4 linked regions of the Homo sapiens genome follow. The protein of the gene in region 1 purifies or fractionates together with the protein of each later gene. This does not show direct contact. Each region holds a gene or a part of one and is shown in the gene's direction. Other genes may lie near its edges. The genes, in order: HNRNPH2, HNRNPA3, PLOD2 and NUDT16L1.

Region 1 (4,510 bases):
CCTACATACTCCCCGGTTTAAAAGTCTTAAAAGGCGCTTAGTGTTTGTATATCAAAGTCTTTGGGATCTGATCTATGCCTTGCCAGTCTTTTCACTTGCTTTTCCCTCTCCTATTTGTGCTTCATCATAATTAAGAAAAAAAAATGTTTATGGATCCCTGGGCAGATTAGTCTGTTTCATTTAACCATTTGGCCTCCAACCAATAGAACTGATCAACTAGTCCCTCTTTGATACTATGCTTACACTCCACTCAGAGGGTCATGGCAAGTATAATGTATATTTGCATTTACATCTTTAATAATGACATTCGGTGCTCCTGTAGGACCATAAGCCCATTCTGGGCTTATTGATTCTTGTATGCCAGAGCCGAATATTGGACATGGCAACTAAAAAATGTTTCTAAAATGAATGTGTGAATTCCCAATAATGTCTTTTTTTCATTTATCTCTGGAGCCCAAATATTTCCCTGATTTTATTGATTTGCATACATTTTTATATAATGAAGATATTATATAAAGAACTTACATAACCTGTGTTTTGTTTGTGTTTTAATTGTTGTTTAATCTTTTGATCTAGTGAAGTTTTTTATGTTTATATATTCAGATATAGCCATCTTTTATTTGTTGACATCTCCCACTGATTTGTTGCTGTTAATTTTTTTTTTTTTTTTTTTTTTTTTTTTGAGACGGAGTTTTGCTCTGGTCGCTGAGGCTGGAGTGCAGTGGCGTGATCTTGGCTCACCTCCACCTCCTGGGTACATAAAAGCGATTTTCCTGCCTCAGCCTCCCGAGTAGCTGGGATTACAGGCACCTGCCACCACGCCCAGCCAATTTTTTGTATTTTTAGTAGAGACGGGGTTTCACCATGTTGACCAGGCTGGTCTCGAACTGCTGACCTCAGGTGATACACCCACCTCAGCCTCCCAAAGTGCTGGGATTACAGGCGTGAGCCACCGCACCCGGCCGATTGCTGTTAATTTTTAATGGTATCTAACACGTAATAGGCATTGAATAAATAACTGCTAAAAAATGAATGAGTTAAAAATTTGGTGAACTCTCTGTTTATACAGACGTCTTACAGAAAAGCTGTCAGCATAATTGAATTTTCTATTAATAGTTTGCTTTTTTCTCTTACTATATCACGAGCATTTTTCCATGACAGTAGTCTTCTTTTTTTTTTTTTCAGCTACACCAAAATTGCATTGAGCCAAACTTGCCACCAAGAGCCCAACAATCACCATGATGCTGAGCACGGAAGGCAGGGAGGGGTTCGTGGTGAAGGTCAGGGGCCTACCCTGGTCCTGCTCAGCCGATGAAGTGATGCGCTTCTTCTCTGATTGCAAGATCCAAAATGGCACATCAGGTATTCGTTTCATCTACACCAGAGAAGGCAGACCAAGTGGTGAAGCATTTGTTGAACTTGAATCTGAAGAGGAAGTGAAATTGGCTTTGAAGAAGGACAGAGAAACCATGGGACACAGATACGTTGAAGTATTCAAGTCTAACAGTGTTGAAATGGATTGGGTGTTGAAGCATACAGGTCCGAATAGCCCTGATACTGCCAACGATGGCTTCGTCCGGCTTAGAGGACTCCCATTTGGCTGTAGCAAGGAAGAGATTGTTCAGTTCTTTTCAGGGTTGGAAATTGTGCCAAATGGGATGACACTGCCAGTGGACTTTCAGGGGCGAAGCACAGGGGAAGCCTTTGTGCAGTTTGCTTCACAGGAGATAGCTGAGAAGGCCTTAAAGAAACACAAGGAAAGAATAGGGCACAGGTACATTGAGATCTTCAAGAGTAGCCGAGCTGAAGTTCGAACCCACTATGATCCCCCTCGAAAGCTCATGGCTATGCAGCGGCCAGGTCCCTATGATAGGCCGGGGGCTGGCAGAGGGTATAATAGCATTGGCAGAGGAGCTGGGTTTGAAAGGATGAGGCGTGGTGCCTATGGTGGAGGGTATGGAGGCTATGATGACTATGGTGGCTATAATGATGGATATGGCTTTGGGTCTGATAGATTTGGAAGAGACCTCAATTACTGTTTTTCAGGAATGTCTGATCATAGATACGGAGATGGTGGGTCCAGTTTCCAGAGCACCACAGGGCACTGTGTACACATGAGGGGGTTACCTTACAGAGCCACTGAGAATGATATTTATAATTTCTTCTCACCTCTTAATCCCATGAGAGTACATATTGAAATTGGACCCGATGGCAGAGTTACCGGTGAGGCAGATGTTGAATTTGCTACTCATGAAGATGCTGTGGCAGCTATGGCAAAAGACAAAGCTAATATGCAACACAGATATGTGGAGCTCTTCTTAAATTCTACTGCAGGAACAAGTGGGGGTGCTTACGATCACAGCTATGTAGAACTTTTTTTGAATTCTACAGCAGGGGCAAGTGGTGGCGCTTATGGTAGCCAAATGATGGGAGGGATGGGCTTATCCAACCAGTCTAGTTATGGAGGTCCTGCTAGCCAGCAGCTGAGTGGTGGTTATGGAGGTGGTTATGGTGGTCAGAGCAGTATGAGTGGATATGACCAAGTTCTGCAGGAAAACTCCAGTGACTATCAGTCAAACCTTGCTTAGGTAGAGAAGGAGCACTAAATAGCTACTCCAGATATAAAAGCTGTACATTTGTGGGAGTTGAATAGAATGGGAGGGATGTTTAGTATATCCAGTATGATTGGTAAATGGGAAATATAATTGATTCTGATCACTCTTGGTCAGCTTCTCTTTCTTTATCTTTCTTTCTCCTTTTTTAAGAAAACGAGTTAAGTTTAACAGTTTTGCATTACAGGCTTGTGATTCATGCTTACTGTAAAGTGGAAGTTGAGATTATTTTAAAACTTCAAGCTCAGTAATTTTGAACACTGAAACATTCATCTAGGACATAATAACAAAGTTCAGTATTGACCATAACTGTTAAAACAATTTTTAGCTTTCCTCAAGTTAGTTATGTTGTAGGAGTGTACCTAAGCAGTAAGCGTATTTAGGTTAATGCAGTTTCACTTATGTTAAATGTTGCTCTTATACCACAAATACATTGAAAACTTCGGATGCATGTTGAGAAACATGCCTTTCTGTAAAACTCAAATATAGGAGCTGTGTCTACGATTCAAAGTGAAAACATTTGGCATGTTTGTTAATTCTAGCTTTTTGGTTTAATATCCTGTAAGGCACGTGAGTGTACACTTTTTTTTTTTTTAAGGATACGGGACAATTTTAAGATGTAATACCAATACTTTAGAAGTTTGGTCGTGTCGTTTGTATGAAAATCTGAGGCTTTGGTTTAAATCTTTCCTTGTATTGTGATTTCCATTTAGATGTATTGTACTAAGTGAAACTTGTTAAATAAATCTTCCTTTTAAAAACTGGAAAAAATCTTGAACTGATTGATTTTTATTATGTTCTGTCATATGGGCACACTGATTGACTTTACAATTCCCTCAAAGTTAAGATTTTTAATTTTAAAATTATAAATGATATTTAGCATCTTTATATGTTCATTGTTGCATATATCATTAATTATTTCTAAGATATATCCCTAGAAATGGGATTGCTGAGTCAAAGATATACTCATTTTTAAGGCTTCTGATTTGTGTTACCAGAAAGATTCTGGTACTTTATCTTTCTACTTGGAGTGTGTGTTTTATTTTCCCCCTTATACCCTCCTTATTGATGCACATTATTCTTTTTGAACTTTGCCAGTTTTTTAGTTGAGAAATGATATCTCATTGCTATTTTAATTTGTATTTTTTTGATTAATATTAAAGTTGTACATTCTTTTTTAAAAAAAACTTACCATGTCTACAGGACTATTGAGCTACTTTTGGAGACTGTACTTACCAAGATAGTATTCTCTAAAATCCAAAGAAGTGAAAGCAAATAAATAATCCTTTTTATTTCACCACAAACTAGAAGGCACGTTTGTATGTTTAAAAAGAAGTAGGCTTACAATTATGTGTTAAAAACAAAACATAAAAAAGAAGCAGGTTTATGTTATGGAAATAAATTGTCTCCTCCATGAATTCATTAGTAGATTCTCTATAAACACTCTCAGGTGTATTTTAGGGCATCTAAAGCTTATCTTAAACCAGCGGTTCTCAAACATTCATGTGCATCAGAATCATCTGCAGGGGTTGTTTAAACATTCATTTCTAGGCCCCATCCCTAGAGTTTCCAATTCAGTAGTTTTGGGATGTTGCTTGAGAATGTGCTGATGCTGCTGGTCTCAAGACCACGTTTTGAGACCCATCACAGTTCCCCAAACAGCAACTTTAAGGAGCAGCTTCCTTTATGATCCCTGATTGCCTCCCCTTTGTTCCCATAACAAGTAGTTTAAATTTTCTGTTAAAGTCCAAACCACATATTTACAATACCTCGCACCTCTTAATGAGGATTTTGAGCTGCTGTGGCATTGTGTGCTGATATCTTAGATTTCTGTCTGGATCACAGTGGTCATTAACAATTCCACCCCTCAATAACTTTAAGGCCCTGATGTCCCTCTT
Region 2 (8,688 bases), on another chromosome or scaffold:
ACATGGCTCCACAAATTATGCAGTAGGTCTGTATTAGTTCGTTCTCATGCTGCCATGAATACCCAAGACTGGCAATTTATAAAGAAAAAGGTTTAATTGGCTCACAGTTCCACATGGCAGGGGAGGCCTCAGGAAACTTACAATCATGGCAGAAGGCACCTCTTCATAGGGCAGAAGGAGAGAGAATGAGTGCAAGCAGGGGAAATGCCAGATGCTTATAAAACCATCAGATCTCCCGAGACTCACTAATTATCATGAGAACAGCATGGGAGAAACCACCCCCATGATTCAATTACCTCAACCTGGTCCCATCCTTGACATGTGGGGATTACAGGGATTACAATTCAAGGTGAGATTTGGATGGAAACAAAGAGCCAAACCATATCAAGGTCCAACAGGGCACTGAAGGGGACCCAAAATATGTCATCCATGATTCATATATCTAATGTTGAATATTCCATAAATAAGTGAATTGCCTACTACAGAGCCAATCACTGTAGTGGTCTCTGGAAACATAAGAAACATAGTGAACAACACAAATGTATGATAGATTTTTAAAGAAAAGGTTGTTACCTTCAAGAATATTAAAATGTAAATACAGTGATTATATGACATTCTAATTCAGCACTTTACTTGCAGGGCCTATATAATTTTAGTCAATGTATTCAACTTTCCTACATCCCAGATTAGGGAGAATTTACCCTCCTAAGTTTATTAAGGGAATGAAATCAGGAACATAATGTACGTGGCCCATTACAAGGTATACAGTAGTATTCAATAATGTGAGTGACTATGATGAATTTCCAGCACCTAGCATTGCCTGGCACATAGTAAGAGTTTGGTAAATAACTTTGTTAAGTGGAAGAGAAAGGAAATTTCAAATCAATCTGGATAGTTAGACATACATTGGTAAAAATAAAACAAATATGTTTGTTTCATATATATAAGCATTGATTAGGCCAACAAGAAAATGTGAGAGGATATGTAATAAGTTGTTGATCATGGTCAAATCTATGTAATAGGATTTTGTGGGGAAAGACTTTTTGTGTGTGTTTTACTTTATAAACTCCTTATTTAAAAATCAAGATTTTAGAAAATAAAGCTTTGGTATATTCTGAATATAATGGCACATAACAAAGCTTATAGTTTATTACAATTCCTCCCTTTTAAGGGTTACCTTCTTCCCTCATGCCTGTAATCCCAGCACTTTGGGAGGCCGAGGCGGGTGGATCACAAGGTCAAGAGATGGAGACCATCCTGGCTGACGTGGTGAAACCCCGTCTCTACTAAAAATACAAAAAATTAGCCAGGTGTGGTGGTGAGCGCCTGTAGTCCCAGCTACTTGAGAGGCTAAGGCAGGAGAATCACTTGAACCCGGGAGGCGGAGGTTGCAGTGAGCCGAGATTGTGCCACTGCACTCCAGCCTGGTGACAGAGCGAGACTCTGTCTCAAAAACAAACAAAATGAGTTACCTTCTTCCAGCCAGGCACAGTGGCTCACGCCTATAATCCCAGCACCTTGGGAGGCCAAGGCGGGCGGATCTCTTAAGATCAGGAATTCCAGACTAACCCAGCCAACATGGTGAAACCCTGTCTCCACTAAAAATACAAAAATTAGCCAGGCGTGGTGATGCACGCCTGTAGTCCTTACTACTTGAGAGGCTAAGGCAGGAGAATAGCTTGAACTCAGGAGGCAGGGGTTGCAGTGAGCAGAGATCACGCCACTGCACTCCAGCGTGGGCGACAGAGCAAGAGACTCTGTCTCAAAACAAAAACAAAAACAAAATTAGCCGGGCATGGTAGCATGGGCCTGTAATCCCAGCTACTTGGGTGGCTGAGGCATGAGAATTGTTTGAACCCAGGAGTGGTAGGTTGCAGTGAGCCGAGATCATGCCACTGCACTCTAGCCCGGGTGACAGAGTGAGACTCTGTCTCAAGAAAAAAAAAGTCTAGATCAGAAACTGCATAAAGCCACTTCAACCATAAAACCTAATATCAAAATGTATTCACAGGAACAAGTTCAAGTTGATCACTAAAAAACACGGAAAATTTTAATTTGAAAGTTTTATGCAAATTCAATATTTAATATCATTCCTAATACTTTGTATTTTATCAAAATCAGATGCTTAAAACATTACCACCACTTAGATGCCTCCAAATATCTTCTAGTTTACCCTACTATGCTGTACAAAAATGATTATTTTCTGTATGTCATGATATAAAGGAGAGGGCCTGATATAGATTATAAAGTTTGTCTGCCACCCATCTCACCCTAGGACCCTCATTCCCTCCTCCCATCCCATACACTCCCTTTCTCATATCAAAGAGTCAGGGCTGCAAGTGCAGACCATAGCCAAGGTTCAAGTCTGTGCCCTACAGGGTCAAGGACTGGAAAAGTGGTTTTTGTACCTGAGACATAACTGGACCTTAAGTTTATTTATTTATTTATTTTTTGAGATGGAGTCTCGCTCTGTCACCCAGGCTGGAGTGCAATGGCACGATCTCAGCTCACTGCAACCTCCGCTTCCCAGGTTCAAGCGATTCTCCAGCCTCAGCCTCCTGAGTAGCTGGGACTACAGGCACCCACCACCACACCCGACCAATTTTGTATTTTGAGTAGAGACAGGGTTTCACCATGTTGGCCAGGCTGGTCTCGAACTCTTGACCTCAGGTGATCCGCCCGCCTTGGCCGTCCAAAGTACTGGGATTACAGGCTTGAACCACTGCGCCCAGCCAGCAGCGTGATCTCGGCTCACTGCAAGCTCCGCCTCCCGGGTTCACGCCATTCTCCTGCTTCAGCCTTCCCAGCAGCTGGGACTACAGGCGCCCGCCATCACGCCCGGCTAATTTTTTTTTTTTTTTGTATTCTTAGTAGAGACGGGGTTTCACCATGTTAGCCAGGATGGTCTCGATCTCCTGACCTCGTGATCCGCCCGCCTCGGCCTCCCAAAGTGCTGGGATTACAGGCGTGAGCCACCGCGCCCGGCCTTTTTTTTTTTTTTTTTTTTTTTTGAGGCGGAATCTCGCTCTGTCACCCAGACTGGAGTGCAGTGGGGCAATTTCAGCTCACTGCAACCTCCGCCTCTTGAGTTCAAGTGATTCTCGTGCCACAGCCTCCCAAGCAGCTGGGATTACTGACGTGTGCCTCCATGCCCGGCTAATTTTTGTATTTTTTTTAAAAGTAGAGACAGGGTTTAACCGTGTTGGTCAAGCTGGTCTCAAACTCTCCACCTCAGGTGACCTGCCTACCTCGGCCTCCCAAAGGCCTGGGATTACAGGTGTGAGCCATGGCGCCCGGCCAGAGCTTGTTTAGACAAAAGCATAAAAAATAACTAATGTCTAAAAACAGCATACAGTCAGGATGAACAACAAATCTGGACCAATACAATAGGGAGGACAAAAAGATGTGAATAAATGGGCTGACATTTCATGTTCCTGGAGAGAACTTAGTATCCCATCCCACATTGTTTCGCGATTTAACATTAACATTTATACAAAAGTTACTAATTAGAACAAAAGTTATTGATTAGAATTAACTTATTAGAAAAACCTGGACAAACATACCCTAAAGTGCAGCCAGGTGATCACTCTTCTTGATCACCTATGTAATGTCTCATAGAGTACTCTGGTGTGAATAGCAATTTCCAAAGGTCTTTCACTTTGCATTTTTCTTTGTATCCAGAATCGATAAAGTTACCAGGACTATTTCACAGTAATTAGACTTACAAAATCTTAACACTAAATAGACGCTAAGGCTATACATTCTTCCAATGTCTCAAGTCTATTGCTGGCCATCAGGAGCACCTGGATACGTAGAACATAAGAAAGTTTGCGAAAAAGGAATCAAAGCAACAGGAGGAGTCTGGTTTGAACGGTTATTTCAACCAAATTACATTAAGGACTGCTAACTGTTTTCTGCCCCACAAAAATACCCTTTGTAAATGTTTCCAAACTATAACACAGGTCCTCCTGGAGCAACGGCTAGATAAATTAACAAACTTTTAGACTTTACGCTCCCCTTTTCCAAACTCCAAGTCGACCACTCCCCATTTGTTAACAGAAACTTACTATAACTGATTAGATTTCTAACCTTTCCTAGGGAGAGCCAGTTCAATTCTAAAAGGGTTGGTCACATGGGTTGCTAAATTAAAATATAAAGCATTTCCTAACAGGGAAGGGAGGCTGGTCAATTGTGGTTATTTTTATCAGTAACTTTAAATATGGATCCATAGATTATCAATTTATGGCTGTCGTGGGTGTTAGAAGATGACCTAATCCCATCCCCATTTTCATTTAAAAAACTGAAACTAAAGCTCTGTAAAATCAAATGATTTAAAATCATCTGACTAGGCCGAGAAAGGATTAGCTCTCTAGAGCATTACGGTAACAATCATTCGCAAACAGGTAGCATTATCTGGCGACCCTGCTTTTCTGGAAATCTTGTCAATTATTCAGTTCCTTAAATTCCGTCAGCTACAACAGATGCATCAGCTCTTTCCACACTAACTTGAAAGAAGCACATTAGAAAATAGTCCTGACTTGTTTCTTGAGATCAGTAACTAATGAACTGACCTCCACCAGTCCTGCCTCAGGTCGTTAATGGTAAAAATTCTGTATGTCAGCCGCGTTTTGAGGCCTGTCCAAGGTGCTTGTGAGTCCCACATGTTGGAGTCGCAGGGCTTTTCAGTACATGCCCTCAGGCAGGCGGCGCAGTCACAGACACTGGTCCCCGGCATTTGGAAACAGGAAAGATGGTCCGAGGGGCCGAGGAGTTTTTCTTGCAACCTTTAAATTACAAGCAAGAAAAACGTGGGTTTTATTTCGGGCACAGGAATAGAATGAATTCTGAAATGGAGAACTAGAGGCCTGCGTGGGGAATGAGGGACAAGCGCGAGAAGAAAGGGAAAGGCCTTTCTCTCTGGTGACGCGCGATCACAAGGCGTTCCCTCTACGTGGACGCTCACCATTGGCGGAGACCGCACTGACGTCCCGGAACTCGCCCTGACGCGAACGGCGGCAAAGGCCCTCTTCCCCTGAAAGCTGGCGAGGCGCGCGCGCTCCCGCGGCACGCCGCGCCTCCGCCCTCCGCCCGCCAACCCGCTGGTCCAGTCCCTCTTCGCGCCCGCTTGGCTCCGCCCCCTTCCCAATTCGCTCCTCCCCCAACAGACTGGCGGCGCGCGGAAAACGCGTCACGTGACGACTGGCCCCGCCTCTTCCTCTCGGTCCCATATTGAACTCGAGTTGGAAGAGGCGAGTCCGGTCTCAAAATGGAGGTAAAACCGCCGCCCGGTCGCCCCCAGCCCGACTCCGGCCGTCGCCGTCGCCGCCGGGGGGAGGAGGTATTAGGGGGAGAGCGGGGGGTTGGTGGGGAATGGCCGGCGTTGGGGGCCTGGTTCGGTGGGAGCGGGGAGGCCGGGTGGACCGGGTCGGCCGTCCCGCGCTCTTGCGTTGAGACAGGCTGTGGGAGGGGGAGGGGAGCGAGAGTTGGAGACCTCCTTGGGGCCCCTCGCCCGCCTCGCCTTCACCTTCGGCTGCACAGGCGGCCCCTTGGAGGCGCGGCTTGGTCGGGGAGGCCTCGGGAGGGAAGCCGGCCTGCCGGCTGCGCGGCCTCCGAAGCGAGGCCGAGGGCGGCATGGCGGGCCCCGGCGGGAGCGGTTGGGAGGAGGTGGTGGGGGAGGGGAGGGGACGAGCAGGCACATCCGGGCGAGCGAGCAAGCGGGCGGCGGCCACATTGACATTGATCCGCCGCCGCGTTACGAAATGGCGCATTGGCCCGCAATGGCCGCCGCCTCGCTCTGCCGCCGGGAAAGCGAGCCTGGGATTGGAGGGAAGAGGGCGGAGGCGGCCCGGCAGAAAAAGCCGCAAATGGCCTCGAAGCATGGGGAGGTAGTGCTTTCGCTGAAGTTCTGCCGACGCTTTTCTAGGCCTTTTACGGGTCCTCTCCGCGAGAAGTCGATAATTGGCCTTTTCTTTTTTTCGCAGCATCCTGTTGGAAATACGAGATTGTTAAAAACTTTGCTGCTTTAAAATACTTCCTGATATATTTTTGCTAAAGTACTTACATTACACTTCTTAAACCGCCATGTGGGCGAAGGACTTAATTTTTGAGAATTTGAGTGTAGATGTGAAAAACAACCCAGCCAGCTCCTTCCCGGCTCCGGCCGCTGAGGAGGGTGGGTGGAGAAGAATTTGAGTATAGTATGTTAAGGAAGAATTTAGAAATGTTTTTTATCTTCATGTTTTCCCATTCTTTGAGTCGGCTCTGGTTGTAGTTTCCTGGAATTTTATTTAGAGGACTGCAACCAGAGTTGAAATTTTCACGTTTTTGCAGTACATTTAATGTGGATCCTAAATATTTTTGTCGATTTCGTTATTGTCAATCGAATACATTTATCCAAGACTTGAAAAGATGAGATTACATGAATTAATGCTTTAGGCTATTAACGTTTTTTTCTAGCATGTGACAATCTCTTCACATTAAACGGTTTAACATCTCTACCTCTAGGAGACACAGGAAGACATTAGAATGTAAATGTGAGCCCCTTATTTAAGAACTTCGGGTGAAGGAAACCTTAATGCATGCATTAAATGACAGTTCATGCAATGTGTTAAAAAGTCTTGACTAAAGTATAAAACAATTTCAAGACATCTTAATTCTTAAAAATCTCAATTTTTGTTTTGCTGTACTCCGTTCTTATAGTCAGACAATACATACCATTCCTAATGTAAGTCCAACTTGCCAGTTAGTTGTGACTCTTAAAATTGAGTTGTAAATTGCAGATTTTTGCAGCATATAACAAACATGGGTTATAGAAAGCTATTTGATCGGCTTTTTTTTTTCCTCAGTTTTTTTGGGAAATGCTGGTTTGGCTTAGGAATGCCTGTTTTAAATTAATTTGCTTGAAAGCAGTGAGTTTCTGTAAGTTTGACATTCAGAACTTTTAGATTGTTCTTCATCACAGTTTTGAGTTTAAATGTATGGGCCGGGCGCTGTGGCTCACGCCTGTAATTCTAGCACTTTGGGAGGCCGAGGCGGGCGGATCACGAGGTCAGGAGATCGAGACCATTCTGGCTAACACGGTGAAACCCCGTCTCTACTAAAAATACAAAAAGTTAGCTGGGCGCGGTGGCGGGCGCCCGTAGTCCCAGCTACTCGGGAGGCTGAGGCAGGAAAATGGCGTGAACCCGGGAGGCGGAGGTTGCAGTGAGCCGAGATCGCGCCACTGCACTCTAGCCTGGGCGACAGAGCGAGACTCAGTCTCAAAAACAAAACAAACAAAAAAATTAAATGCATGTTGGGTTGTAGACTGAGAAGAGTTGAAATGGGATAGATGCAACACTGCTTCTCCAACAGTTTAGTGCCTTAGAAAATGACTTACTAGCAACTTCTAAAGTAAAGGTTCTCAGACAGTTGTAGCTTTTAAAAAATGAAGCGATTTTTTGATTCTGGAATTGTCTTGGATTTCAATTTAGTTGAAGTGATGCTGGCATTTGAAAGGCTGGTTATAGGTTTCCTTGACATAAGTTAGCCCCTTTAACAGTTGAAGTCTTATTTCTGGTCAAAGTTTTTGTTGTTTTGTTTTTTTGAGACGGAGTTTTCGCTCCTATGGCCCAGGCTGGAGTGTAATGACATGATCTTGGCTCACCGCAACCTCCGCCTCCTGGGTTTAAGCGATTTTCCTTTCTCGAGTAGCTGGGATTACAGACGCCCGCCACCACGCCCAGCTAATTTTTGTGTTTTTAGTAGAGATGGGGTTTCGCCGTGTTGGCCAGGCTGGTCTCGAACTCCTGACCTCAGGTAATCCATCTGCCTCGGCCTCCCAAAGTGTTGGGATTACAGGCATGAGACATCGCGCCGGTGTCTGGTCAAAGTTTTAACTGGACAAAGTGTTAACTGTCACAGGAATTTGATGTTGATTTTATTACTTACCGTACATTAAAGGCTCTTCGTGCATCTTAATTCATCTACTGTAAGGTAACTTAAGAGTATTGGTTCTTTCTCTCAGGGCCATGATCCAAAGGAACCAGAGCAGTTGAGAAAACTGTTTATTGGTGGTCTGAGCTTTGAAACTACAGATGATAGTTTACGAGAACATTTTGAGAAATGGGGCACACTCACAGATTGTGTGGTAAGTTACTAAGAGAACAGAAGGGTTCTAAGGGGTGTAGAGAACCGGTGGAGGTGTTTTCAACGTTATAAAACTTTTTATTTTGTAGGTAATGAGAGACCCCCAAACAAAACGTTCCAGGGGCTTTGGTTTTGTGACTTATTCTTGTGTTGAAGAGGTGGATGCAGCAATGTGTGCTCGACCACACAAGGTTGATGGGCGTGTAGTGGAACCAAAGAGAGCTGTTTCTAGAGAGGTATTTTAATAATACATTGTGTAATATGTGAAATTGTTGTGAAAGTTTGTTTCTTGACTTAATATATTACTTTATTTGTAGGATTCTGTAAAGCCTGGTGCCCATCTAACAGTGAAGAAAATTTTTGTTGGTGGTATTAAAGAAGATACAGAAGAATATAATTTGAGAGACTACTTTGAAAAGTATGGCAAGATTGAAACCATAGAAGTTATGGAAGACAGGCAGAGTGGAAAAAAGAGAGGATTTGCTTTTGTAACTTTTGATGATCATGATACAGTTGATAAAATTGTTGGTAAGTAGCAATTTATGGTAACTTGAATGAGAA
Region 3 (8,651 bases), on another chromosome or scaffold:
GCAGAGACCTGATTTAGAATGAAGAGTCACAGCACAAAAGTTCTGCTTCATGGTATTCTCTAAGCCCTCATCTCCAGTTTATATCTTATATTCACTGTAGTTTCTACTCCCATCTAAGTTCTGATCTTAAACTTGTGTTTCCCAATGCTATAATCAATGACCTCTCTGAGGCTTCCTCCTATTCCCCAGTCTCTCTTCTGTAATACTTTTCCTATTTATCTGACTTTAACAGTCTCCTTTGCTGATTTCTTTTTTCCTCTTTCCTCAAAAGGGTCCGCCCTCTCTGAGTTTCAGCTCTTGGATGTCTGGTGGTTTTTCTTTGTCCTCTAATTCATTTAACATCCCCCTTCCTCTGTACCTCCAGGGTTATTCCGCGAATTCCCAAAGCTTTACTTCTTATTCACTCCACAAATATTCATTGAATAAATATTCGTTGACTCCTTTTTCTCTCCTACGCCCACATTCAGACATCAAATTTTGTTGACTCTACATTCAAATCTATCTGGAAATTGACCTTCATTTACTGCTACTGACTTGCTTAAAGCCTCCGTCATCTCTCTCCTGGACCACTGCATTAGCTTTCAAGTTGGTCTACAGGTCTACAGACTTTCTGTTTTATTTCTCCACTCACTCTCCCTTATCTTCCTCTAATGTGGCAGCTGTGGACTCTGTGATCCTTTTTAAATCCTACTTCAGATCATGTCACTGCTCTGCTTAGAACCATCCAAATGGCTTTTCAATTCATCCAGGGTAAAGGACAAAGCTGTTACTAGGTTCTACCCTTATCACACTGTCTGTTTATCTGCTTGCCTCCGCCCTGCTTGTTACCTTCTCAGGCTTCATCTCCTACTATTCTTATGCACAGTCACTGAACATTCAATTGCCCTCTTGCTTCCTCACAACACTCCAGGTATTTCTGGTCTCACAGTCCTTGCACTTCCTGTTTCTTCTGCCTGGAACACAGGTCCCCTGTACATCCTGGCCCCCTCTTTTTCTCACCACTTTCAGGTCTTTGCTCAAGAATCGTCTTCTCAGTGGGGCTTTCCCAGGATCCCTTACTAAGGTTTTGGTATACCTCCCCTCCTTATTGGTCCTTCCCAGTTACCTTTCCTGATTTACTTTCTCTCTACCACTTATTACCTTATATGTTTATCTCTGTTTCACCTGAAACTAAAGCACAGTAGATTTTTGTTTTTTCTGTCACTAATAAATTTGTTTTTACCAATATCTATCTAGAACAATGCCTGAGATATAGTAGTCATGGAATATTTTTTGAATGAATCAATGAATAAACAAATGTGCTACTATGGTACTTACTCTTTGATGATGAAAAATAATTGAATCCTGACCTTAACAGACACACTGTCTAATAATAATTCTAAGAAAAGACCCTGTCACAAATGAGAGAGGTTTGCTTCAGAAGTTAGAAATCATGGAACAGGGACATCTAAACCCATCCTGAGGTAGGGTAAGTTACCCCAGTTGGGCTTCCTGTAGGAGGTGGCACTTGAGCTTGACAGACATTAGCCCAATGAAGGAAGGAGGACAGGTTTTGTCATCCTTTTTTTTTTTAGATATAGGGATAACATGAACAAAGGTATGGTTGCTGAGCAAATGCTGCTTCTCTCATTTCTCCTCAAATTTCCTTACCATTTCTGAGCATGTCACCCTGACTTCTTATGATCAAGAGTTACATCATCAGAGTGGCTGCTACCATAGCAGGTTGGGAATGCCTGGGAATTAATGAGTGTCCCTCAGCCCTTAAGTCAATGACTGATAGGTGTTGGGAATATATATCCCAGTTCTCTGACCCATTGACCAGGATATTTTTGAGTGATATATAGTACATCAATTTTGTGGGATTAAGCTCCCATTACCCACTGTGGTTGATTTAATTGGATATTTTCCCTTTCCTGTGTCATTTTAGCTTCACCTATCTGGTTTTCTCAAAACTCTCCACAAACCGCTAGTCACTGAATTTGGGCTCATGCTTGGGCTTCAGAGGAACCCAAATGATTCCTACCTAAACTTTAGAGAATTAAAGTGACAAAGTATTTGGTCTGCTTTAGGAGATAATAAAGCAAACTACGTTGGTTGGGTTTAGTTTGGCATGAAGGAATCTGAATACTAGGTTAGGGAATGTGGATTGTTTCCAAATCTGTTATGAAATCTGTTTGGGGATGAAGCAATCAAAAGGATATCTGAGTATGATTAATCTAGTTGTGGTATATAGTGGTATTACACTGGTGGTAGGGAAAGTCTACAGGAAATGGCATAGGATACACTCAAGAGTGCATTAGTTAGTGAGGTAGCAGTGAGAATGGAAAGGAATAGATGAAGAGAGAACATGAAGGGAAAAAATGACAAGATTTGGAGTCCGGCTCTGTGAGTTGGCGGGTGTGGGGGATGGAAAGAGAGAAGTAAAAATGTCTGAGGCCATATGAGTTAGAGAGCAGTAGTATCAACAGAGATGAGGGAGCCGAGTGGGATCTGGATTTGATGAGTTAAAAGACATATCAGGCCGGGCTTGGTGGCTCACGCCTGTAATCCCAACACTTTGGGAGGCCGAGGCGGGCGGATCACGAGGTCAGGAGATCGAGACCATCCTGGCTAACACGGTGAAACCCCGTTTCGACTAAAAATACAAAAAAAAAAAAAAAAAATTAGCCGGGCCTGGTGGCGAGCGCCTGTAGTCCCAGCTACTCAGGAGGCTGAGGCAGGAGAATGGTGTGAACCCGGGAGGCGGAGGGAGCTTGCAGTGAGGGGATATCGCACCACCGCACTCTAGCCTAGGCAAAAGAGCGAGACTGTCTCAAAAAAAAAAAAAAAAGACATATCGAGTTTTTGCCAATGGAACATCCAAGTAGAAATGTTCAGCAGATGGCTGGAAATGTAAGAAAGCAGGAAGGATTTGGTTTGAGAATTGGGGCTCTTTCAGACTGTTAGAAATGTCTAGGTATTTGAAAATCCCAACACTTGCTTTATACGAGTCTCACAGCACAGATGTTGTGACTCTTAACAGAGAAGGAAGAATGTCAAAATAACCTGAAATTATTAGTGGACTTTTGGAGTTTAAACACACACACACACCTGTGATGCAGAGAAGCCGGTAAGCATTCATGAGGGGAACGGGGGTTTGGGAGGGCAGGAAGCCAGGTTGTAGCTCTCCAAGTTCTTAAAGATACTGGAGAACCAAGGAAGCAAGAAGTCAAGTTCAAGGAGTTTGGCAATTGCAGGTTTGGCTTTCTGGAGACAGATCTGGCCAAAACACCAGCCATTCCTAGCAGAGTCCTTGGACTCAGAGGACTGATGCTGTTTGCTTTGTGCCTAGTTTTATGAAGCTGTACTTGCCACACATGAAAGGCTGTTATTAAGGAATCCATCTTTTAGCTTTTTTTTTCCCCTTCAGACTAAATAAACCTTATTTCATTCTTCTCACAGGTCATAGTTTCCACTTCTTTAATTATTTGTTACTCTTCTCAGAACTTTCTCCAGTTTTCCTCTTCTTTTAAAAAACTGAGACCAAACCTTCAAAACAGAGTAATAACTGGCTTAGTTCTGGGCACAGGAAATGATTCTTTCTAAAATGTCACATCCCAGGCAAGATTTCTTTGCAGGGTTTTCCACCTGTTTTTAATGCTATCAAGATGAAAGCATTAAGTTCATGTTATCTTGATATGTTAATTTTAGACAAAACGTGATCATAATGGAACACATTTTTCCATAATTTTCTGTCTTAATTTCAAAGGCCCAGAGTTATAACGGGTGTTGTCTCGATTCTGTTTTTTTCTAATTTCACGAAAATTTAGGCAGGAGATTCCAGAATGGTAGCAGTTTGGTTCTCTTTCTCCTATAAAATAGCTTATGTCATTAAATGTATGAGGCAAAACTGTCAAGCTTTTTTCTTAATTGTGCTTTTGCTCCCACTCATTCCAACAAGTTAAACCCTTGGCTAGTTAAAATGTGAGAACAGAAAAAAGGGAATTTTCTTAGACATCAGTCAAAAGTGGAAGCAGTGGGGGCCAAGGCTCAGAGATCTCGACCTCTCCGACCACGTCTTTGGGAGTAATTTTCCATGCGGACTGGAGCACGATCTTGTAAGCACAGCCCCGGCATTACACACGTTGGGCTCCGATTCCGCAGGATTTACAAGCCTCATTACTGGAAAGAGTCTAAGGCTCTCTTGGCACAAGCGGCGGAGCAAGAAATGTTCACTGGACAATAAAACTTTCGGTTTACGGAGTAAAATAAAATCACGGCCTTCCTTTTACAGGGTGATGAACCTGCCCCTGAATTAATGAGGGGCGATCCATTTCCATGGCTTAAGAGTCTGGCGAGGTCCCAGTCAGCCAAGATTGCCGCAGATTTGCAGTCACTTCAGACTGGGTGGAGTATCCAAGTCCATAGAAGAGCAAATTCTCACCCTTCGAGGCTGCTGTGGAAGCTACCGGGGCTGGGACAGCAGAGAGGAACCCAGACGGGAACACCGCCCTCCCGCCAGACTCCCGGCGGCTCCTCCTCCCTCTCCCAAACCCACTCCCAAAGCTAAGTGCAGGCTTCCCCGTTCCAGCCAGAAGCGCTGCGTGAGCCTCCACACGTAGCCGCAGGCAGCTCCTTAAATAGCGTCCGCGCTGAGCAAACAGTCCAGACGTGGGGCCCAGGAGGGCGAGCTGAGGCGACCGCACCGGGCGCGCAGCGGCGGCGGGTCAGCCGGCGGCCAATAGCCAGGGCGCGGCCCGCCCCGTCGCCTCCCCTCGGGGAGCCTATAAGGCCTCCGCAGCGCCCCGGGCGCCTGCTGCTCCGTGCCTCCACCGACGACCTCACTCAGCTGCGTTACGCGCCGCTCCGGCTGCCGGCCGCGCGCCTTGCCCGCCGGCTCCCGCCCGCAATCGGCGGCTCAGGGCGGACCCGGGTCTCTGCGTTCTCGCGAGAAGCGCGGCGCTGCGGGGCCGTGGGCGCCTGAGCCCGCGCGGCCCTCGAGGGCCGAATATGGGGGGATGCACGGTGAAGCCTCAGCTGCTGCTCCTGGCGCTCGTCCTCCACCCCTGGAATCCCTGTCTGGGTGCGGACTCGGAGAAGCCCTCGAGCATCCCCACAGGTGAGCACCCCGCGGTCCGCCGCTGTCCCGCGAGGCTCGGCCGGCGGGGGGGCAGTTCATTCATCCACCAGCCCTTCCGCGGGGCTGGCCAGGTGAGTAGTGGGGGCCTGTCCCTCCTCTCCAGGACCGCCGGGGTCTTCCCCAGAATTGCGGTCGGGCGGCGCTGGTCCCTGGGGAAGTGTAGGGGCACCCGCCCTCGTTGACTCCTTGGAGTTCTCGGTGAACTCAGCGTGCCCGAATTTCCCTGCAGAACAAGTTGGAGTTTCCTTTTGGACTTGCAGGTCATGGGCACCAACACCTTTCCTGCAGCTCTCCTTTCCCCTCCTTTCCGAGAGTTGGCATGGATTTATCCTTGATGGACGAGGCAGTACTCCTTCTGTGACCTAAACACGGGGCTTAGTGTACTTTCTAATTGATGGTGACACATTCCTTCCAGCACCCCAGGAAGCAGCCGGTAACACCTCCCTCTTGCCAAAAACAACGCTCGCTCGAAAACCTTAGTTGTTTTCAGTAAGGCTGCCTGGCTACCCAGTACCTCCAGGCGGCAGCTTTCTTCCTTTGGGATCTGAAGGGGAAGCTGTGGACACACAGCTGCTCCCCTTACCTACCCTTTTCTTGAGCCCGGTGCTGTCTCTCGTTTTCAGAAGCTGTGTAAAACAAAACGTTTTATATTTAGCCAGATTAAAGAGAGTTTCACCACGTCTGTCTAAACATGCTTTGCTGCCTTTTGTGGCACATGAAAAATCCTTGGAGTTTTCCACATTTGTGCTCTTTGTGCTCAACTCTCTGAAATTAGATCTTGCATTTAAATGACCTTCTAATGTCCTTTTTGTTTTGTTTTGTTTTTTGTTAAGTCATCTTGGCACCATTTTTTCCCCCAAGTTTATAATAGAGTGCTTTTCTACTTGAACTTTTCTTAAGCCTAAGGACAGAAATTTCTATTTCAGAGTTACATTCAGAAAGTGACATTTGGTTTGCAGTCCAGCTAATCCATGTAGCGATAGTTTTGTCTTCATCTTTAAGTGTTTCAGAAAGCGTCAGCAGGCTGAACTGCCTATCTTTCTACAAAACAGTGCTTGCTTTGTTAGCTTGAGAAACTTCAGCATTCAGATGGATTTCTATCAGTTACAGGATGCTTTTCTTTCTGTTAGGTATATGTGACCATTTAAAAATGGATTTCTGAACCCGTGTGATTCCTCTAAATTTGAACTAAACTTTTGCATAATTTAAAAATATTTCTTCTAACATAATATCTGGAAAGTAGAAAGTAAATACTTTCAGCAAATTTGGAAGTAGAGAAATTTAAAAAGGAAAAACAGAACAAAAAGCCTTCCCCAGAAAAATGTCTTTCTTTGTTGAAACACCCAAGGAGACTTTAACTGGGAAATAAAATAACCTCTAAGGACTTTGTAATATTTAGAGAGGCCTCTTTGGCCTTTGTATATTTTATTCCACTTCATTGCCAACACCCCTAACTTTTTAATAGAGGACATCCCTTTGTATCTGCCTTTATATTTATAGTCAAAATCAAATTCCCTTCTCACTCTGGATTTTAAATTTCATGGAACTGGACAGTAAACTTTTAATGGATTGTGATATCAGAGAAAGAGAATTTTAGGTATGAAAGTTTCCTCAGGAAACGACCACATGAAACCCACTGTTTAAATCTGAGGACTGGTCACTTGGTAAGCAGGCATGGAGAATTCGGTTAGGGTCGAAATGTGGGAAAATACTAATTTGTGATAGGTGAAGCCAGCAGTAGTCAGTTTGATTACAAATTTCGGTGTAGGTAGGTGTTCTCATAGGTTATGTGATAAACTAATAAATGTAGAGGTAAACTGCTTGATAAAGTGGGCAGAATCATGGACTGTGGTCTATTTTATTCTTTACAAGTTTCAACTGAAAATTACTAAATAGAAGCTTATTCGTTGACATAAATATCAAGATCTTCTATAGGACCCTAAATTGTCTAGCTTAATAGTTCTTTAAGAAGAGTGCTTATCATCTCTAACCCTGTATATTTGTCAACATGTCCCAGCTAACCAAGAAGAAATGGTTTAAATCACAATTTCTTGGCCCTATTGACATTTTGAGCCAGACACTTCTTTGCTTTGAGGGACTATCCTGTGCATTGATGTTTAGCAGTATCCTTAACCTCTGTGCACTAGATGCCAGTAGTATAACCTTTCTAATCTGAGCACCAAAAAAACAAAAAAGGCCTAATGTCCCCAGAGGGACAAAATTGCCCAGGGTTAAGAATCCCTGGATTAGACTAATCTATTTGTATTTGAGGCAATATGGCATTATAGTGTTACTGGAATGATAACAGCAAATTATTTTTGAAAACAAATATTTATAGTGATTTTCAGTTTACCCACTGTAGTTGGGAATGTGATACACATTCATCAATTTTTGGAGTGTAGTTTTTCCTAGCTCTGGTGCTTTGTTGACCAGAGTTGAGAACATAGATTTTTGTTAAATTTTTGAGAGTTCTGTGTGCTGTATTGATTCCTTTTGGTTGCCACTTTATTCTTAGCATGGAAAGACTAAATAAGATTTTGGCTAAAATAATCATTTTCTCTGAAAATAACGTATAGGAATTGTTACCTGAAAATTATATCCTTATGGGAGCTTTCAGAGGCAGAACCTTCTTAATCAGTGCCAGTAAATCAGGTTCATACCCTGATTTATCTTTCCTGCCCTTTCTGCCTTCTAGATGGGATAAGGAGAAGGTGGATGTATTCCTGCCAAGTCTTTGCCGTCATGTCTCCAGACCTGGATAAAATTTGTGTGTGTTTTCTGAGGCACCTTACTATTCTATGATCCAAACTGGGCAGAAACCAAGTTTTGGGCAAAAACAAAGGAAATGGTTTCAAATGTTTCTGTCAAGACCAGTATTTTTGTACCACATTCATTCATTTATAAACTCTCTAATTTACTGTGGTACATTCAAGGAAAAAAGGAAAGGTTTGTCCCTATCTACTGATGCAAACCAGCAATTTATGGGGTGGAGAGGAAAAGAGCAAGGGCCTGGAGAAACCTCTGGAAGAGAGAGGGTCTTGTCCTCTGTACTTTCTGTATTCTGTGCTTCAGCCACACAGAATGACATATCATCCATAAACAGACTGTGCCTTTTATTTCACATGACAACAGACATATAAAACTACTATAGAGAATGTGAAGACAAGAAATGAAAATTAAATTGAGCTACCCTTTTCTATCCAACACATGGGACAAAGCATCTTAAAATAAACTCTGATTGTACCAAATGTCAGGATGGGAATTGACCGTTGATGGAAGCACAGTGTCTTTGGAGAACAATTTAATAATATCTACTGGAATTGAGAATCCGCATGTCCTGTAATCCTAGATATGTGCATGAATAGCACTCTCAAATTTCTGTTCCTTCCTTTTTAGTTTTTTGAAATCCTGTTTATTGTTTAAGTCTAGCTCCTAGGAAATTCTTCTCCTGGCTATTTTTGTTTGGTTCTTTTTATTTTTAACTTCTTAATGTAGCTGGTTTATACAAATCATATTTACTTTGTACTATAGG
Region 4 (8,685 bases), on another chromosome or scaffold:
AGCTGGGGAGTGCAGGTGTGATCTAGAACAGGGCTCACAGCCTCGGAAACCTGCTCTCGCCGCGGCCCCCGAAGAAAATAGACGCCCTTCACCGGAGAGTGGGGCCTGGGCCGTGTCTGCTGGGAGCCATGTGTCAGGGCTGGTGGCTGGGTGTCAGGCAGCCCTGAGGCCATGCTGGCCCCGTCCCAGGCTCTGCACCAGCACCATTGCCCAAGCCCCAGGGACGCCAGACCCATCTGGGGACAGCGCCCGGCGGCGTCGTGCAGGCCACAGTCTGGGCATTGGGGCTCTGTGGGAGGCTCCTCTCTTTGCCTTGCAGTAGCCATCCGGGGGCTACTCTGAGCACGGGCTTGTTCTCACCCAGGGCCGCTCCCCACCCCTGCACCCTGGGTTGACCGAGTTCCACCCTAACCCAGCCGTAAGAACCTTGGCAGGACAGTGGCTGGCCACATCCCAGGAAACCGGAACCAGGGCAAGGGCAGGAGGCCCAGAGGGCATCCACCGCGGTGCCGTGTCGCGCTCTGACTCGGGGCTGCAGATCTGCTGTGGGTGTCCGGGGATCTGGGATCGTCTGTCCCAAGAGGGACACAGCGTATTTGGCACAGTTAGGGAGTCCCCGGGCCCTTGGTGTGCTCACATCTGAGTGAATGCTGTTGTGGCCACAGGCGGCGGGAGTGGGGGTGCTGGATGGCCCAGCCCCTCTGGGGCTCCAGATCGGTAGGAGCGGGTGGCGTGGCACCAGGCATCCGAGTGTGACCCTCCTCCCTCTGCTCCCACCTGCAGGACGGCCCACCTCCATGGAGACGGCCCACGGCCTCGCCACCACCAGCCCCACCTGGCCTCCACTTGGTGGCCCCAGCCCCGATCCCAGCGCCGCCGAGCTGACCCCACTCTGAGAGCCTGGCCGAGCTGGCAGCATGGAGCCCTCGGCTCCCCAGACTTTGCCGAGGGGCTGCTCCGGACCCCGTTGTGAGCCGGCCTCCTGTCTGCATGCCCCCTGTGGCCACCAGGCTCCGAGGGGCCGTGGTGACTCTTGATCAAAGAGCACAGTGAACTGTCCCTTCTGAGTCTCCCTTTTCTACAGTTGATATATTTGTAACTGGTACAAGATGAAGGACAGCAGCTTTCCATCCCTAGTTCAGAGCCCCCGTTCCCCAGGGTCCTGTGGGCTGAGCGGCTGGGGCTGGGGCTGCCCACGTGTGGCCTCCGCTGGCTCTGCCTGCTCCTGCAACAGTGCGGTCCCTGCCCGGAGAACTCAGGAGGCCTGCAGAAGAGAACTGATTGGTGGTCGAAGCACCATCTTCACAGATGTTCAGGGGCAGTGGGGGGCTCCAGGCACGGTCAATGAAGGAAACAGTGCCTGTCCACCCACCCTGCGTGTCACTGTGGCGGCCTGGCTGTCGCTGCTTTTTGTCCTCTGCCGTGTTTGCGCGGCCTCAGTGCCCTCCCTGGTGCGTCTGCGCTGGGGCCCTCAGTGCTCGGGGCCTTGGGGTGCATGGGTGCCGCCCTGGGCAGCTAGAGTGTCTCAGCCCGGTGCTGGGCCTGGCCGAGGGGCGGAGGCACAGCTGCTTCCAGCAGCCAGCATTCAGTGGCCTTGTCACCAAGCTCCACACCTCCTCCTGGTGCTGGCTTTGGTGACATCACAAGGCCCCTCCAGGTGCAGGGGCTTCTGTTTGGCAGGCCCCTGCCAGGGAGGACCTGGTGGCCTCCTCATTCTCTTTTGCCATTGGAATGTCCCCTTGCAGTTCTCTTCTCTTTTTTTTTTTTTTTGAGATGGAGTTTCACTCTTGCTGCCCAGGCTGGAGTGCAGTGGCTCAATCTCGGGTCACTGCAACCTCCGCCTCCCGGGTTCAAGTGATCGTCCTGCCTTAGGCTCCTGAGTAGCTGGGGATTACAGGTGCCTACCAGCATGCTCGGCTAATTTTTTTGTATTTTTAGTAGAGAAGGGATTTCACCATGTTGGCCGGGCTGGTCTCAAACTCCTAAGGTCATCCACCTGCCTCGGCCTCCCAGAGTGCTGAGATTACAGGCGTGAGCCTCCGCGCCCGGCCCCCTTGCAGTTCTCTCTGATTTGGTTTGTTCTGTCTCAGGCTTCTGTGGCAGGACTGGCCCAGGGAGGAGGAAGCCAGCAGCACACCTGGGGAATGGGGTCCCGGCCGGGAGGCTTGGCCTCTGGGCGACCTCGTCCTGTTTTTTTTGTTTGTTTGTTTGTTTTTTTAAAGGTAAACCTCCTGGGCCGCAGATGGCAAAGGGAGTGCCTGGGCCTGGTGACCCAGGGCTGGATCCACCCCTGCGGAGCCCTGGGCCAGGCAGGTGTCTGCTGCTCACCTGGCTCTGGAGGGCTGCCCTGCAGCTGGGCCTGGGGACAGGTCGGCTGTGGGGCAGCTCAGTACCCTCCCTGAGGCTCACGGTGGCTCCGAGCATGAGGTCCGCCTCCTGGGCGAGACCCAGCAGTGGACAGCATGGTCCTCACACCCAGCTCCCTGCACACCCAGGCCAGCCACCCCTCCCGCTCGTGCACAGGCACGCAGATGCGCTCACACGTACACACACACAAATGCACGCCCACTTGCACATGCTCACGCACATGTTCACACATGCACACTCACGCTCACACATGCTGTCACGCATACACACACGCACATACTCCTGCACATGTTCCCATGCATGTGTGTGCACTCGGACCGAGCATCTCCCACGCACCTCTACCCCACCCCAAGCACCTCTCTCCCCCCATGCACCTCTCCCCAACAACACACACAGCCCCCTGCACCGCCCGCCCCCCGCCCCCACCAAGGCCCCAGCCTCTGGCCATCAGTCCTGGTGCCAGAGCTTTGCGTGAAGTTCGGGCCGCAGAGTGGCCCGCTGGGACTCCCATGTGCTGCCGTCTGATGTGCTCAGATGGGCTCATCGTTGGTTCGTTTTTACTGTATATTTATAGTAATAAAATCATGCAGCAATATCCTGTCTGCTCCTTCCTCCGGGTGCAGCCCTCAGGATTGTGGCTGTTTCCTGACCCGGAGTTTTGCCGCTGGGTGGTTGGCGGTGGCTCCCGCACCGTGGCAGCTCCACGGCCTCTGCCTGGCTTCCCTCTGGGGTCAGGGCAGTGAGCAAGGTGAGGGCTAACGAGAACGGGCAGCTCCCAGCCATCCCTGTCAGGGCTAGTTGTCTGGTTGGAGGGAAGCCACACCCTCCAGATTGGGCTCTCTCGTGAACAGGTGGTTGGGGAGCCCAGGGCCTCCAGGTTTGTGAGTAGTCGCTCCGGTCCCCATCTCTAGTCCTGATCATCTCAAGGCATTTGCTGAGCACCTGCTGTGCGTCAGTGGAGGCAGAAGAGCTGAGGCCCCGGCCCTGGCCCCGGGCGCCTGCCTTCCAGGCAGTGAGATGCCCAGCAGCTAATCAGAATCCTGCCAGGTTTGGTTACTATTAGGAAGAAAGTCAGCATGGTGGTGAGATGAACCCGTACAAGGTCTCATTTAACCGGGTGGCAGGGAGGGCCTCTCTGAGGAGACTTAAACAGCCCTGAGGGCTGAGGAGGAGCTGGCCCTGGAAGAGTGTTCCAGGTGGCAGGAGTGAGCCTGATGTGTCCCCTGGGGACGGAGCCCCTGGCTGGAGTGAAGGGTGCTGGATAGATACTGAAGAGCTTGTAGGGGCTGCTGGAGTGTTTTTATAAGGGGGAGTCAGTTTTAAAAACAGGCTTCCAAGCGGAGAAGCAGTGCTAGCACCCTGCGGCTGGCGTGTGGAGGCCGGACGGTGGGAGCAGGTCTAGCTGCCCATGGTTGTGGGCTCGCAGGCTGGAGCCCGGCCCCAGGCCTCTGCACAGCCCCCGCTCCCCTGCCCAGGGAGTGGCCAGTGCCCCAGGGCACCCACCACACCACTGCCTACCACTCAGGGCCCCAGCTCCTTTGCGTGCAGGTCAAGCTGCCACCATGGCCCTTCTTTGAAGACTGTGAGGGTGGAGGGAAAGCCCGTGTTCTAGCCCATCAGTCCCTGCCCCGAGAAGGCTGCCACCCATGGGCCCTGCAGCTGCTCTGACCTGCCTGGGTCTGGCCCCATCCCAGTGTGGGTAGAGGGGTGCCCAGGGTGTCAGACGGGTGCTTGCATGGGCCAGATGGGCTCCCCCTCTGTACCTCCCAGAAGAGCCAGCGCTTGTATTGATGTCTGGTCTCGGGGAGGGGCTGCAGCAAGGGGAGCCTCTCCTCCTCTGCCCCTGCGTCCCACGGGCCCTGGGCGCTGGCTGGGCTTGGCTGCCTAGGGGTGGGGCCCTCTTTGGGTGAGAGGACCCTTCCCCTCGCTGCCCTCTCGCCTTCTCACATGGTCGCTCACTCTGGAATCTGGACTTCCCCTGCTGCTTGCAGCTGTCCCATGTGACCCCTGACCCACTGGTGGCCACAGGAGGAGAGAGAGGTGCCCTCTCTGGGTCCTTATTCTCCACATCTGAGGCCACCACGGACCTAACAGGTGAGTTTCCAATGCCCACCCTCTCCCTCTCTCTTCTCCTGCCTGCCTCCACTGAAGGCAGCCTTCTCTGTGCCAGCGAGCTCGGCCTCACTGCACGGCTCTCCCGAGGCTGTGCCCCAGCCCTGGGCACCCATGCTGTGAGTGCAGGCAGGGGGGTTCATGTGCTCAGCAAATCCATTCCCCTGGTGGGGAGGAAAGTGGCCCTGGGCCCTGCTGCTGGTGAGGTGAGCCTTGCCATCATGGAGTTCAGGGCACCTCGCTCTGCCTTGGGCTGTTTCGGATGCTTCTGAGCCCCAGAGACATCTCCAGTACAAACACAAGGTAAGTGGTAAGTACCTCAGGCCCTTGTGGAATCGGGATTCTGCCTCTGTCATCAACTGCCAGTTGTACTTAGGCAAGTTATGTCCCTCTCTGAGCTCCAAGTTCCTCATCGTAAATTGGGGAAACCCCTCTTCCCCCCACAGTACCTGGCACAGGGTGCCCGGCTTGGAGGATGCTGGAAAGGTCCAGCCCCGGAATTTAAGTCACTTTCTGCCCAGCAAGCTGGGTCCACAGAGCCCCAGAGCTCCCGGTCGTCCGCCCTGACCCAGCGTGGACTCGGGGACTGGGGCACTCAAGCCCTGCCAAGCCCTGCTCCCCGTGCTGTCCTGGATCGAGCCTGCCAGCAGGGTGGCTAGGTCGGGACAGCTGTCGTGCATGGCAGGCGAAGGCCATCTCCCTCCGGGCTTGGGTCCGGTGGCGCTGGCGGAGCAAGGCTCCGGGGCATCTCTGGCTCGTGTGGTCGTGCCAAGGGTGCCATTGCGGATGGACGGGGCCATGCGGGCCGGGTCGGCCTCCTGGGGAGAAACGGGTGGGCGCAAGGGGATCGGCGCCATCGAGGGTGGAGAAACCGCAGGGAATTTCGGCTGTCCGCTTTGGGGCGCCAAGGAAGATGTTCGTCGCCCACAATGTCAACCTTGAGCCACCACGGCACCGACCAGTCGTCTAGGCTCTCCCGTCGGAGGCGGGGCCGCCGCCCAGGGTGTGCGACTATTGGGTGACGGCTGACGCGCACCGCCCTCCTTTGCACACCGCCCGCAGCACCTCTCGACGACGCACCGCGGCGCTGCGAGGGGCTCGGTCCCGGGGCGCGCCGGCGATTGGCGGGGGAACCGGACCCGGGGGCGCGGCCGCCCGCGGATTGGCGAGGCACGGCGGGGGCGGGCTCGCGCATGCTCTTAAGTGGCAGCGGCGGGGACGGGGTCAGTGCCAAGATGTCGACGGCGGCGGTTCCGGAGCTGAAGCAGATCAGCCGGGTGGAGGCGATGCGCCTAGGGCCGGGCTGGAGCCACTCGTGCCACGCCATGCTGTACGCCGCCAACCCTGGGCAGCTCTTCGGCCGCATCCCCATGCGCTTCTCGGTGCTGGTGAGGACGGGCGAGGGCGCGGGCGAGGGTGCCGGCGCGGGCGGGCCCGGGCGGGGGCGTCCGTCGACCCCGCGGCTGTGACCCGCGCTCCCTTGCAGATGCAGATGCGTTTCGACGGGCTGCTGGGCTTCCCCGGGGGCTTCGTGGACCGGCGCTTCTGGTCGCTGGAGGACGGCCTGAACCGGGTGCTGGGCCTGGGCCTGGGCTGCCTGCGCCTCACCGAGGCCGACTACCTGAGCTCGCACCTGACCGAGGGCCCACACCGCGTCGTGGCGCACCTGTACGCGCGGCAGCTGACGCTGGAGCAGCTGCACGCCGTGGAGATCAGCGCGGTGCACTCGCGCGACCACGGCCTGGAGGTGGGGCCGCCGCCCGGGCCCCGCCCCCCGCCCCGGGGTTTGGCTCTGGCCCCGTGGAAGGCACCGATGGGTAACACGTCTCCTGAGGGTCCCCTGGCCGGGCTGGGTCGGGTGTCGCTGTCTCCAGCAATGGGGTGGGGAGAGGGGTCTGGGGCTGGGAGGCCGGGAAAGGAGGGGCGGGGGTGGGGGCCGGCGCTGGGGCTCCCTCAGGGCTGTGTTACATCCGCCTTGCTGCCTGCCATTGCCAATCCTGGGAGTGGGGGAGTGGGATCGGTGGGGAGGAAGGGATGGGGGAGGAGCGGGGATTGCTTGGGGAGTTGGGAAACTTGAGCACAGCGGGGGTTGTAAAACTTGGGAACCTCATGTTGGGCGTGAAGGCTCTTGGGATTTGTACTTTGTGGTCTGGAAGGGCTGGACTGCGGGTGTTCAGGCTTCGTTGGGTGGACGGGGGGAGCATGGGGTGCGGACCCCGGGGTGGGGTGGCCTGGGTACGAGGGGGGGGAGTGCATGGGGTCAGCCTCCACACTTGCTTGGGGAGGAGGGGGCTGCACTGCTCCGAGGGAGCTGGCTGGCTTCTGCCAGGCCCTGCGTGGGTCTCCCATTAAGTCCTTGGCAAAGCTGGCTGCTCATACCCTGGCCTCATAGCTTCCAGGCCCCTCCTGCTGGAGGTGCCATTGTGTGGCAGGCCTGGCCCCAACCCCTACCTCCTGTCTGCGCAGGTGCTGGGCCTCGTGCGGGTCCCGCTGTACACCCAGAAGGACCGAGTCGGAGGCTTCCCCAACTTCCTGAGCAACGCCTTCGTGAGCACGGCTAAGTGCCAGCTCCTCTTTGCCCTCAAGGTGCTCAACATGATGCCCGAGGAGAAGCTGGTTGAGGCCCTGGCTGCAGCCACCGAGAAGCAGAAGAAGGCCCTGGAGAAGTTGCTCCCGGCCTCCTCTTGAGGGCTGCCTGAGCTGGTGGCACCCTCCCCTGGGCCGGAAGACTGGGAATTCCTGCTAAGTGTGGCTTCTAGAGTGTTTGTGTGTACCCCGCTTCTGACTGCCTAGGGCGAGTGGGCATCCTGTCATCATCTCCACTGTCCCAAGCAGTCACTAGGTGGCGGCCGGGCCAGCTGGAACCCAGCCCATCCTCTCAGGCAGAGCAGGGTGGTCCGGGCACACTGGGCCTGCCTCTCCAGCCTCAGGATGCTCTTGTTTATTCTGGGCTCAGACCCTCCTCTTGTACGTCTCATCACAGCTGGTAGAGACCCAGGAGTGCCTGATTGTCCCACAGGGGTGGCGCACAGCTCTGGGACCACTCAGAAGATGGGATGTGTGGGTGGAGGATGCCTTGTCTCGGTCAGCTCATTCCTGCCTCCTTCCTGAGCCAGTTCAGGGCCTGGGGGAGAGCCAGCTTGGGGTAGGAAGTTAATAATACTGTTAATTTGGGTTGTTGTTGGATTTACTTTGCTAGATTTTCTCTTTCACCACGTGTGAACTGTGGGTGAGGTTTCAAAGTAGCTTCACCCCACGTGGCTTGGTTCCCAGGGACAGTCAGGGCCTCGGGGGCCCAGCTATGTACAACGAAGCTGTCGAAGGAGAAGACAATAAAGTCGCTCCGCAGCTGCTCTGTGTGTTTCTCAGCTGCCCTGTGTGTTTGTTTTGGTTCTGGATGGAACCAGCTCAGGCCCCCTGCCCTAGGTGGGGGAGGGAGGAGCTGCCCCAGCCAGGGGCACGTTTGTTCCCCAGTGTTTACTGGGGGCACTCCCAGCATGAATGCTGTGCCCATCAGCCAGGTTGGGGCGTCTGGGCCGAGACCTTCAGGGCAGGCTCCCCTTCCTGATCCTGGTGGCCCTGGCTGCACCTGGGCTGACCTGCTTTGCTTTGCAAACCCACCATTCCCCACTGTCTGCAAGCAGCTCCAGGGGATGGTGTAGAAGTGCAGGCTTACTGTGCAGAAGGACAGCAGCAGAGCCATCCCTCGTGGTCTCCTACAGCCCCACATCTGGAAAGACTCCAGCGGCATCGTCAGAAAATTTGCACAGCCCATGCCTGGCCCGGTGAGGGAGGCAGTGTGCCCAGCTCCATCTCAGAGCTCGGTGTGAGAGCAGCATGTCCCGGGGGAGGCCCTGTGCTACGGCGGGCTGGGGATGTTCTTGGCTCTCAAAGCCTTATCTTGAGTTGTCTGGGCTCCAGGAGCAAAAGACACACCCCTGAACAGCAGAGGACAGGGCAGTCAGGGTTGCTGCATTGGCCAGTGCCTCATGTCATGTGACCAGAACTGAGCCCTTCACTAGCTGTTCTTAAATTTTATTTTCCAAAAAATGGCATTTTCCAGGTGCCCCAGTCCTCATTCCTAAGGTCCCACCTCAGTTGGCACCTGTGCGTGTATATGGATACACTTTCCCCCCAGGGCCCTGCCTGGTATGGGCCAGGGCAGCCCATGAACTCTGGGCCTCACCACGAGGTTCTGGGTGAGGC

The links.
Region 2: the proteins of HNRNPH2 (region 1) and HNRNPA3 purify together in Homo sapiens (affinity purification with mass spectrometry; 2 studies listed by BioGRID and IntAct, with this or other methods). This does not show direct contact.
Region 3: the proteins of HNRNPH2 (region 1) and PLOD2 purify together in Homo sapiens (affinity purification with mass spectrometry; 2 studies listed by BioGRID and IntAct, with this or other methods). This does not show direct contact.
Region 4: the proteins of HNRNPH2 (region 1) and NUDT16L1 purify together in Homo sapiens (co-immunoprecipitation; 2 studies listed by BioGRID and IntAct, with this or other methods). This does not show direct contact.

What each region holds. Positions count from the first base shown.
Region 1 is NC_000023.11:101,410,751-101,415,260, forward strand, and holds the end of HNRNPH2 (heterogeneous nuclear ribonucleoprotein H2), read left to right. Parts: intron 1-1,185; coding exon of another isoform or gene 1,186-1,238; coding exon 1,239-2,588; 3' UTR 2,589-3,383; downstream 3,384-4,510. Other genes in the region: RPL36A-HNRNPH2 protein, read left to right, coding at 1,186-1,242. UniProt on the Homo sapiens protein: This protein is a component of the heterogeneous nuclear ribonucleoprotein (hnRNP) complexes which provide the substrate for the processing events that pre-mRNAs undergo before becoming functional, translatable mRNAs in the cytoplasm. Binds poly(RG).
Region 2 is NC_000002.12:177,207,534-177,216,221, forward strand, and holds the start of HNRNPA3 (heterogeneous nuclear ribonucleoprotein A3), read left to right. Parts: upstream 1-5,260; 5' UTR 5,261-5,266; coding exon 5,267-5,338; intron 5,339-8,005; coding exon 8,006-8,128; intron 8,129-8,216; coding exon 8,217-8,363; intron 8,364-8,444; coding exon 8,445-8,655; intron 8,656-8,688. UniProt on the Homo sapiens protein: Plays a role in cytoplasmic trafficking of RNA. Binds to the cis-acting response element, A2RE. May be involved in pre-mRNA splicing.
Region 3 is NC_000003.12:146,157,328-146,165,978, reverse strand, and holds the start of PLOD2 (procollagen-lysine,2-oxoglutarate 5-dioxygenase 2 isoform 1 precursor), read left to right. Parts: upstream 1-4,794; 5' UTR 4,795-4,989; coding exon 4,990-5,098; intron 5,099-8,651. UniProt on the Homo sapiens protein: Forms hydroxylysine residues in -Xaa-Lys-Gly- sequences in collagens. These hydroxylysines serve as sites of attachment for carbohydrate units and are essential for the stability of the intermolecular collagen cross-links.
Region 4 is NC_000016.10:4,688,013-4,696,697, forward strand, and holds NUDT16L1 (tudor-interacting repair regulator protein), read left to right. Parts: upstream 1-5,549; 5' UTR 5,550-5,672; coding exon of another isoform or gene 5,673-5,714; coding exon 5,715-5,867; intron 5,868-5,965; coding exon 5,966-6,226; coding exon of another isoform or gene 6,227-6,556; exon of another isoform or gene 6,557-6,945; coding exon 6,946-7,167; 3' UTR 7,168-7,832; downstream 7,833-8,685. Other genes in the region: E3 ubiquitin-protein ligase MGRN1, read left to right, coding at 784-896. UniProt on the Homo sapiens protein: Key regulator of TP53BP1 required to stabilize TP53BP1 and regulate its recruitment to chromatin.